Linked DNA regions of Homo sapiens: all the other regions are linked to region 2. The links come from fine-mapping of genetic effects on gene expression. A gene starts in region 2. Each other region holds a variant in brackets. All regions are shown on one strand. Distances are from middle to middle. Region 1 overlaps CYRIB (CYFIP related Rac1 interactor B). Region 2 holds the start of ASAP1 (ArfGAP with SH3 domain, ankyrin repeat and PH domain 1). Region 3 overlaps ASAP1 (ArfGAP with SH3 domain, ankyrin repeat and PH domain 1).

Region 1 (2,657 bases), 460 kb after region 2:
CTGGGGCAGCAGCTACTTCCCAGCCTGTGTGGAAGGACTCAGTATTTTAACAGCTGGGCAGCCATGCCGGTGGGAAGTGGCTGGTTTGAAAGTGTTCAGGGTAGGGCTGGGGTAGACTGTTCCTCATTTCCATCCCTTCCCAACACCTGCTCACCCTCAGGGGCTTTTCAGTGGGCCTTTTGCAAAGTGAATGTTGCATTGATTTGTTGTGGAGGTGGACTGAGAAAAGTGGAGGGCGACTGCTCTGGGCTGGTGTGGTTGTTCAGGACCTGCTGCCCTGTACCCTGAGGTCCTGCCAGACAACCTGTGCCACACTCACTCTATTTGCTCTGAAGCATTTTTTTTTTCTGAGAGCAATCAGGTTTATAGGCTTTGGAGAGTGTGCAAATATTTGATTTTAATTAAGGAAGTCTGGAATGGGGAATAGAAAAAGGTTACTTCTCATTTACTATTTCTGGGGGGTGGGGGAGGATGTGGTACCTCCAGCCACATGGTGGGTCACCATTGTCTCCAGGGTGGACCAGGCACCCAAGAGGAATTTGGGCAAGCGAGAGGCAGTGGGTCACCGGCTCATGGAGCCTGGGGAATTTCAAGGGGGTGAGTAAGGCAAGAGGGTGAGCAGTGTGGAGCTTTCCCGGGCCAGGATGGAGCGTGGAGAGGCCGTGAGAAAGACCGGCCTTCTGGATAGTGGCACCTACTGCCTGTTAGTACTTGCTGCCAGCCGCTGTGGTGCCCATCCCATCCGCTGGATGATCTCACCTAATAATCCTCACCACAACCCTTACTGGTAAATATTATCAGTCCCACTTTACAGAAGAGGAAACTGAGCCCAGAGAGGTTAAGAAACTTGTCCCAGATCACCCAGCTACTGAGTGGCAACCCTGGTGTGTCAGGCTTCAAAGCTGTACTAAAAACCACTACTTGGGTGGGGCGTGGTGGCTCACGCCTGTAATCCCAGCACTTTGGGAGGCCGAGGCAGGCGATCACCTGAGGTCAGGAGTTCGAGACCAGCCTCAACATGGAGAAATCCCATCTCTACTAAAAATACAAAATTAGCCTGGCGTGGTGGTACATGCCTGTAATCCCAGCTACTCGGGAGGCTGAGGCAGGAGAATTGCTTGAACCTGGGAGGTGGAGGTTGCAGTGAGCTGAAATCGCGCCATTGCACTCCAGCCTGGGCAACAAGAGCGAAACTGTCTCAAAAAAACAAAAACAAAAACAAAAAAAACCCCCACCACTTGGTGGTTGGAGGGCATTCCTAGAGGACCCAGGACTATTTTGAGGAGGACAGGTGGGGTCCCATGAATTAAAGCCCTAGCGTGTGCAATGAATGAAGTGTTATCCTGACTGGTAGAGCCTGCCTGTTTTCTGTAAGAGGGAGGAAAAAAGGTGTTGGGGGAGGGCAGGGCAGTGGCCGCATCCTGGGGTACAGGGAGGAGAATGAGCCCTAGAGCCCAGTGTTCCTGTGCC[A/T]GCCCTGCCCCCAGTATCATGTGGCCTTGGGTGACTCATCCCATCTCTCTGAGCCGGCTTCTTTCCCAGTGAGATGAGGGTAGCAACCACAGTAACAGCAGTGACTGTGGGCTTCCTAAGTGCCAGGTGCATGGATTAGGCCTCCCGCACTTGGATGCTCAGTGGGTGGGGAAGAGGGCCTCCCTGCCAGCCCTGCCTGGGAGACACTGGATGGGGAGGTCCTGGGCAACTGGAAAGTGCTCAGCCATCTGCAAGGAGAGGGAAGCAGCTTGTGTCCCGTGTCTGGCTTCAGGCCCCTGCAGCCCTCTGACTGTTGTCCCTGCAGCCAGAGAGAGGCAGGGGACTGTTAAGGATAGGACTTCTTGCCACAGCCCTAAATAGTGCTTCTCCCTGCTGGTGGGCGGTGTTCCCCGCCTTGGCGGCTCAGCAGGATCACCTCCTCAGGCATTCAGAGGAAAAATACGGAGGCCCCAGCTGTGCAGCACCATCACCTGGGAGCTGTCTGTAAACCCTGATCTCCGATTCCGGGGAACAATATTTTTAAAAAGCTCCCGGTTGATTCCAATCAGAGGCTGGCTTCTCCTAGGACCTGCTGCCGGTTCCTGCCAATGGGATGTATTCGTTAGGGCCTGGGCGGGGCCCCGGCGAAGATCGGCTTTATGGGGCAGCGCTTCGGCCTCTTGCACCCGGTTCCGCACCCAGCGGGAGGGAGAGGGCTGCGTCCTCTGCAGGCCTCGCGGAGCCCGGCGATGCGCAGGACGTGCTCCCGGGCGGTCCCCGGTGTCCCCGCATCCCCGCGTCCCCAGCGTCCCCGCATCCCTGTGGCTGGTGCAGAGCGCACGTGAGCGCTGCCTGGTCCCTGCTCTGGGACTGGCCTGGATCCCTCCCTGCCCTGGATCCCTTCCTGCCGGTGGGGCTGTGTGGGGCCACACTCAGGGTGACCTGGCACAGTAACTCCCACCCAGTGCCTGCTGCCCAATGGTGTCTTCTTATTTAAAAACTTTTTTTTGTTGTTAATGTAGCAGATTTAACAGGTTTATTTTTTATACATATATATATATTTATTTTTCTTTTTTGTTGAGATGGAGTCTTGCTCTGTCGCCCTGGCTGGAGTGCAGTGGCACAGTCTTGGCTCACTGCAAGCTCCGCCTCCTGGGTTCTCGCCATTCCCCTGCCTCAGCCTCCCG
Region 2 (2,657 bases):
TCCAGACTGTTTAACAACCCCCACTCCCCACTACACCCAGACTCTCAGATTAGGAGCAAAATCCCAAATTTTGTGAGGTTTTCTGTTTCGGATTTCACCAGAAGGGGGTCTGCCACAGCCACTAACCATTTCCTCTGCAGAGAGCCGTTTCTGAAATGCTGCAAAGAAAAACAATCACCCAATGATTAGGAGGGAAATTAAGTTCTAAAGAAAGACTACTGTCTCTGACTTTGAAAGTAGACATAGATATGCACAATATACATCCCACAAATTAAAATCCTCCTTTCTCTGATGTCTTTTAATGGTAATAATAAGGACAAGCATGGCTATCATTTATTTGGGCGTTTCCAATGTGCCAGTCCCTGTCTAAACATTCAGCTTCCAGATCAAACCTATGAGGGTGGAATTAACATCCATTTCATAAATGGAAACTGAGGCTCAGGAAAGTTGAGCGAGTTACTCAAGGTAACATGAGTAGAAAAAAGGCCATATTCCAACCGGACACAGAGCCTGCAGCCCACACAATTACTCTCCATACTGTTCCTATACTATCCTGACTGGGAAGGTCCTGTTCCCTTGGCACTGGGCAAAAATAAAATTATAAGAGCAGAGAGGAAGTGGTGAAAGGGGGCAGCCTGGTGAAATCATTCCTTTACTGAAAATAGGGGTAACGGCCAGGACAGTGCAGGTCCATCCTCTGCAGATGGAAGACAGGCACGTCCTTTGCCGCTGTCCCGGCCTTAGAAAGGCACCTTCCGCGTCCAGGGTTTTCTGTGGATAAATCCCACCCCTTCCACCTCAGGCGGGGAGGAGGCCGGCCGGCCGGGGCATGGGGCGGAAGGCGAAGGACGCCCGACCCCGGCCGAGGTCTGGGGCCCCTCCCACGCCCCCCTCGTGGCTGCCGGCGGGCCAAGGGTTAAGCGAGGCGGGAGCCCCCGGCGCGGAGCGGCTCGGGGCCGGGAATGCTTAGTCAGGATTCCGATTTCCTGTCGAAGTGTTTGGATTTCCTGAAACCCGCGCCCTCCGCCGCCGAGCGGGATCGTGCGAGCCGCTCGCGTCGCCGCGGCCTCCTCCCCCTCGGCACATGGTCGCCCGCCCCTTCCTGCGCCGCGCTCGGCTCCCGCGCCTCGCCTGGCCTGGCCGCTGCCGCGGGCGAGCACTGTGCGCTGGGCAGCCCCGGGCCCGCGCCTCCCGCCCAGCCGGCGCTTCCCGGTCGCAGTTCGCTTTCCCACCCGAGAGCCGCGAGCGCCCGGCCGAACCCGCGATGGAATAATGCCCAGCGGCCCGCCAGGTCCCGGTGAGTTGCGGGGCGCTCGGGCGCGCTCGGCGGGGCCGGGCGGAGTCGCCCACAGTCGCGGGCGCCCCCTGCCCAGTCTCTCGCGCGAAGAAGGGCGCCGGGACGGGGCGCGGGGCGGGCTCCCGGCTCCTCTCGCAGCGGGGTGTCCTTCTCCGCGGGGAGGGCGCCGGCCCTGGGCTGGGGCGTGTGCGGGACGCGCGGCCAGGCTCTGCGGGGCCGGGCGAGGCCGCCCGGTGGGGGGGGGAGGTCTCCTCGCCTCCAGCTCGGGAGAGGGGGCCCCTGCAGTGGGGCCGGGGACGGGGCCCGCCCTGGGGGGTTTCGCGTCCCCCTCCGGGGGAGGGCCCGGGACGACGTGCTTGGCGGCCCGGACCCCGCCGATGGGGCGCCCTCCCGGCATTGTCTCTGGTGCAGCCGAGGAAAGTTCCCCGCGGCCCCCGGCCCCTACCCGGACCCGGCGCTGCTTGGCAGGCCCCAGGCCACTTGCCTAAAGCAAAAGAAGAGAAACGAAAGGGAAGGGGGTGGGGGGAGTCCTACTTGGAGCTTGGGGTTGGCTCCTGGGCGGACCGTGAAGTGGCTTGTGTTTTCTGCTTGTACCATTTTGGGACCTGCTGCGTTTTCTGAGAGCGACATGAAGTTTCAAAGAAAAAAGAAACTTGCCGGTGTCCGGTTTTCTGCGGTTTGATACATCCCAAGAGGTTCATCTTGGGCACTTCTAAAGCAGTTTCCTTTAATAATGTGGTTTTCCAGTAGCTCAGGGAGAAGGATGGTCAACTGCAGACCATCATCGTTAACTTGACCTCAACTTTACCTGTACTCGTCAGGAAAGCAAAAGAACTTTCTCTCGCATTTTCCCCTGTCTACTCTGTTAGGTTATCTTGGCGTGATTGATTCTGGGATGACATCAGGACCTGGATTGCTGAGTAATGTTTTGGGATTGTAAAAGCTTATCAGTTTTTAGGCCAGGGTTATCTGTATTGCAACCTTCATCCCAAAGCCTTTCTGTTTTGCAATTGTAGCGCGGCCAGATAGCTTTAAGAAAATGCGGGTCTTCTGGAAACACCCAGTGAACAGTTTGGAAAGAAAAAGATCTTTGAGAACAACTGATTCACCCCCTTCAGAGAAGGCCCAGAAAGGTGACCTGACTTGCCCAAGATCACATGGCCAGGAGTAGTTTCCACTTCTTCAGGCTCAGTCCCATGCCCCTTCTGTGTTAGATTTTGATCTGTTAGCCATGAAACAGATTTGGAAACGTCTTCTTTGCGTCACAGCCTTCACCACTTTAGTGCCTTCTCTTCTGTCCTGTTAATGCTGCTATTTTTGAGATATGCACTTATTTCAAACTGCATATTTTGAGATAGGG
Region 3 (2,657 bases), 270 kb after region 2:
TATTAGCCCAATTACTGCCCCCTGTACTTCATTATTTGTCTTAATCCTCTTCATATCTTTTCTTCATCTCGTGACTAAATAAAGTGATATAATGACCTTTTTCAGCTAAATGGATAAGAAATAGTGTCTTCCATCTTCAGTGTTTTATACAAATCAGTAGCTCAAATTAGGGCTTAAAAATATTGTCTTCCTTACAAGAAGACAAATACTTACAAATACTTCTTCCTAAATTTGATCGCCTGTGGAGCTCTTATTACAGATGCATGATCCCCTGTCACTGAAGAGTCCTTTCTGATGACCCCCTACCCTGACTCTCTTACTTGGCATTTTGCCTTTTTTTTTTTTTCCTTTGAGACGGAGTCTCACTCTGTTGCCTGGCTGGAGTGCAGTGGTGCAGTCTCGGCTCACTCTAATCTCCGCCTCCTGGGTTCAGGCAATTCTTCTGCCTCAGCCTCCCCAGTAGTTGGGATGACAGGCGCACGCCACCACACCCAGTTAATTTTTTTTTTGTATTGTTAGTAGAGACTGGGTCTCACCGTGTTGGCCAGGATGGCCTTGATCTCCTGACCTCGCGATCCACCTTGGCCTTGGCCTATTATTGCACCATTTGCACCATGTATTTCCACCTGGAGTCTTCAGTTTTGTTTTGTTTCATCTAAAATAAGTGAATTTAAATAGTTGGGGCATTAAGAATACTTTGCATTTGTACATGGATTCCTATATAATTTGTGTTACATTTTGAGAAATACCATTGTTCTACACTGGCACCATTTTTGTTTGCCTATATTGCAGGGCTATCTTTTTGTTATGTTTGTGATTCTGTGGTGCCACATTTGCTTGTTTACTTATTGGGTTAACTTTCATGGGTTTTCTGGTAGAGTCTGTGTGTGAAAATGTGCCAGCTACACATGGAGACTCTACCAGAAAAGTAAAGTCTGTATTAGTAAAGTCTGTATTCGTTGATGGAAGTTATACCGAAAATAATGGAAGGACCTTCCAGAAATGGAATGGACAGCTCTCATAAGCAAAATAATGTAAAGGTCGTTTGGACTAGATAAAATACTCTCAAAAAAGTTAAATTCATAATTTCCTTTGATCTTTCTTATTCTTTTCAATAGTTATATTTAGAAAGATACCTGTATTCAACT[G/A]AAACATTTAAGGAGGTCAGCATTAATATTATGTCAAAAGCACAAAGCTTGGGTTAGACAAATTAGATGAGTCAACATTTTGGCTCTGCAGCTGGTTAACTGTATTCTTAATCAGGTACTTCACTAAACCTCAGTATACTCACTCGTCAAGCTGGGTTACGATTCTGTAGCAACCACCTTAGGGTTTTTGTAAGGCTGTAAAAAGTGAAAAAGAATGCATGTGGAGTGCTTAGCCCAGTGCCTGCGACCTTGTATGTGTTGACAGCTGTGATGATTCTAAGTGGCATTTAAAATTATTTATTTATATATTTTATTGTCTAGGATATTTCTCTTAAGGAAAACCTTTTTGATGATCAAATTGTTGTTTACATAAATTTGATGATAACTTTTTTTCAAAGTAAATTGTACCTTATATAAGTGTCTTTCAAAAATAAAAATAATATATTGAAGTAGAAAGTTTTCACCTTCTTAAGATTAAGTTTGTTTATTGAAGACCTGGATTAACTAACTTACTTTTGGCTTTGTAGTGTGGTTGGGCAGTTATGAAACTTTGGCCTGTGTTCTAATGGTCCCTGATTTTAGTATTGGGTGGAATTTTTTATCTTTCATCAAATTTAGTTTTCCTGGAAACATTTAATTCCTTTGAAAGTTTTAAAGAAATAAGTGAATCTCTCAGTCTCCTGAATTCTGCAGTACTTTGGCAGCAAAACTGATTTCACCTGACTTTAGAAATCTATTTTCACGTTAAATTCTCTAAGTTTATAAGGAAGAGTTTGGCCTACACAAACAAGAGTTTTTCAAAATAGAAGATGCTTTGTAAAGTATACATATATTAGCCTTCGCTAGTAATGGTGATGCTAACTTGTATAGCTAATGCATCCTCCCTTTATTCTCTTATTCTTTGCTTTTTCCCTTTCCACAAATATGTATTAGTCTTTTACCAAAGATCAGCTACTGTGCCCAGTTCTGGGACAGAGATAAAGCAAGGCTTTTCCGCTCAGGAGTTAATTGTCCAGGTATAGGAAGTAAGTCAGATCCATTATTAATCATAATGGGGCTGGACAGTGACGGGTACCATGGAGCATCAAGAGGAAGAGAGACGGCTGGGCGCGGTGGCTCACGCCTGTAATCCCCGCACTTTGGGAGGCTGAGGCAGGTGGATTATTAGATTACAGGAGTTCAACACCAGCCTGACCAACATGGCAAAACCCCGTTTCTACTAAAAGTACAAAATTAGCCAGGTGTGGTTGCGCATACCTGTAATCCCAGCTACTTGGGAGGCTGAGGCAGGAGAATCGCTTGAATCCAGGAGGCAGAGGTTGCAGTGAGCCGAGATCACGCCATTGCACTCCAGCCTGGACAACAAGAGCAAAACTCTGTCTCAAAAGAAAAAAAAAAAAAACAGGAAGAGAGACATCTGACCAGGAGGACTGAGGAGAAGGTATTAGCACCTTGAAGGAGGTGGTGGGACTTGTCATTGAACTTGGAGGATAGCTAGGATTTTGTTAC

What was found. PIP is the estimated chance that this variant, and not a neighbour inherited with it, causes the effect. A credible set is the group of variants that fine-mapping cannot tell apart.
Region 1: its variant is the best candidate, but not a certain one, in a credible set for the expression of ASAP1 in whole blood (TOPMed, PIP 0.58).
Region 3: its variant is the best candidate, but not a certain one, in a credible set for the expression of ASAP1 in blood mononuclear cells (TOPMed, PIP 0.62).

What each region holds. Positions count from the first base shown.
Region 1 is chr8:129,983,337-129,985,993 of GRCh38, reverse strand. The region is part of intron 1 of CYRIB (CYFIP related Rac1 interactor B); the gene reads left to right. Among named protein-coding and RNA genes, the nearest start is that of MIR5194, 24 kb to the left of the region's middle. The variant A/T (reference allele first, on the strand shown) is at 1,471.
Region 2 is chr8:130,442,100-130,444,756 of GRCh38, reverse strand. It overlaps ASAP1 (ArfGAP with SH3 domain, ankyrin repeat and PH domain 1), which reads left to right and starts at 1,083. Exons shown (of 30, transcript NM_018482.4): 1 at 1,083-1,297. RefSeq lists silencers at 999-1,098, 1,139-1,228, 1,239-1,398, 1,449-1,528.
Region 3 is chr8:130,176,582-130,179,238 of GRCh38, reverse strand. The region is part of intron 9 of ASAP1 (ArfGAP with SH3 domain, ankyrin repeat and PH domain 1); the gene reads left to right. Among named protein-coding and RNA genes, the nearest start is that of ASAP1-IT2, 93 kb to the right of the region's middle. The variant G/A (reference allele first, on the strand shown) is at 1,149.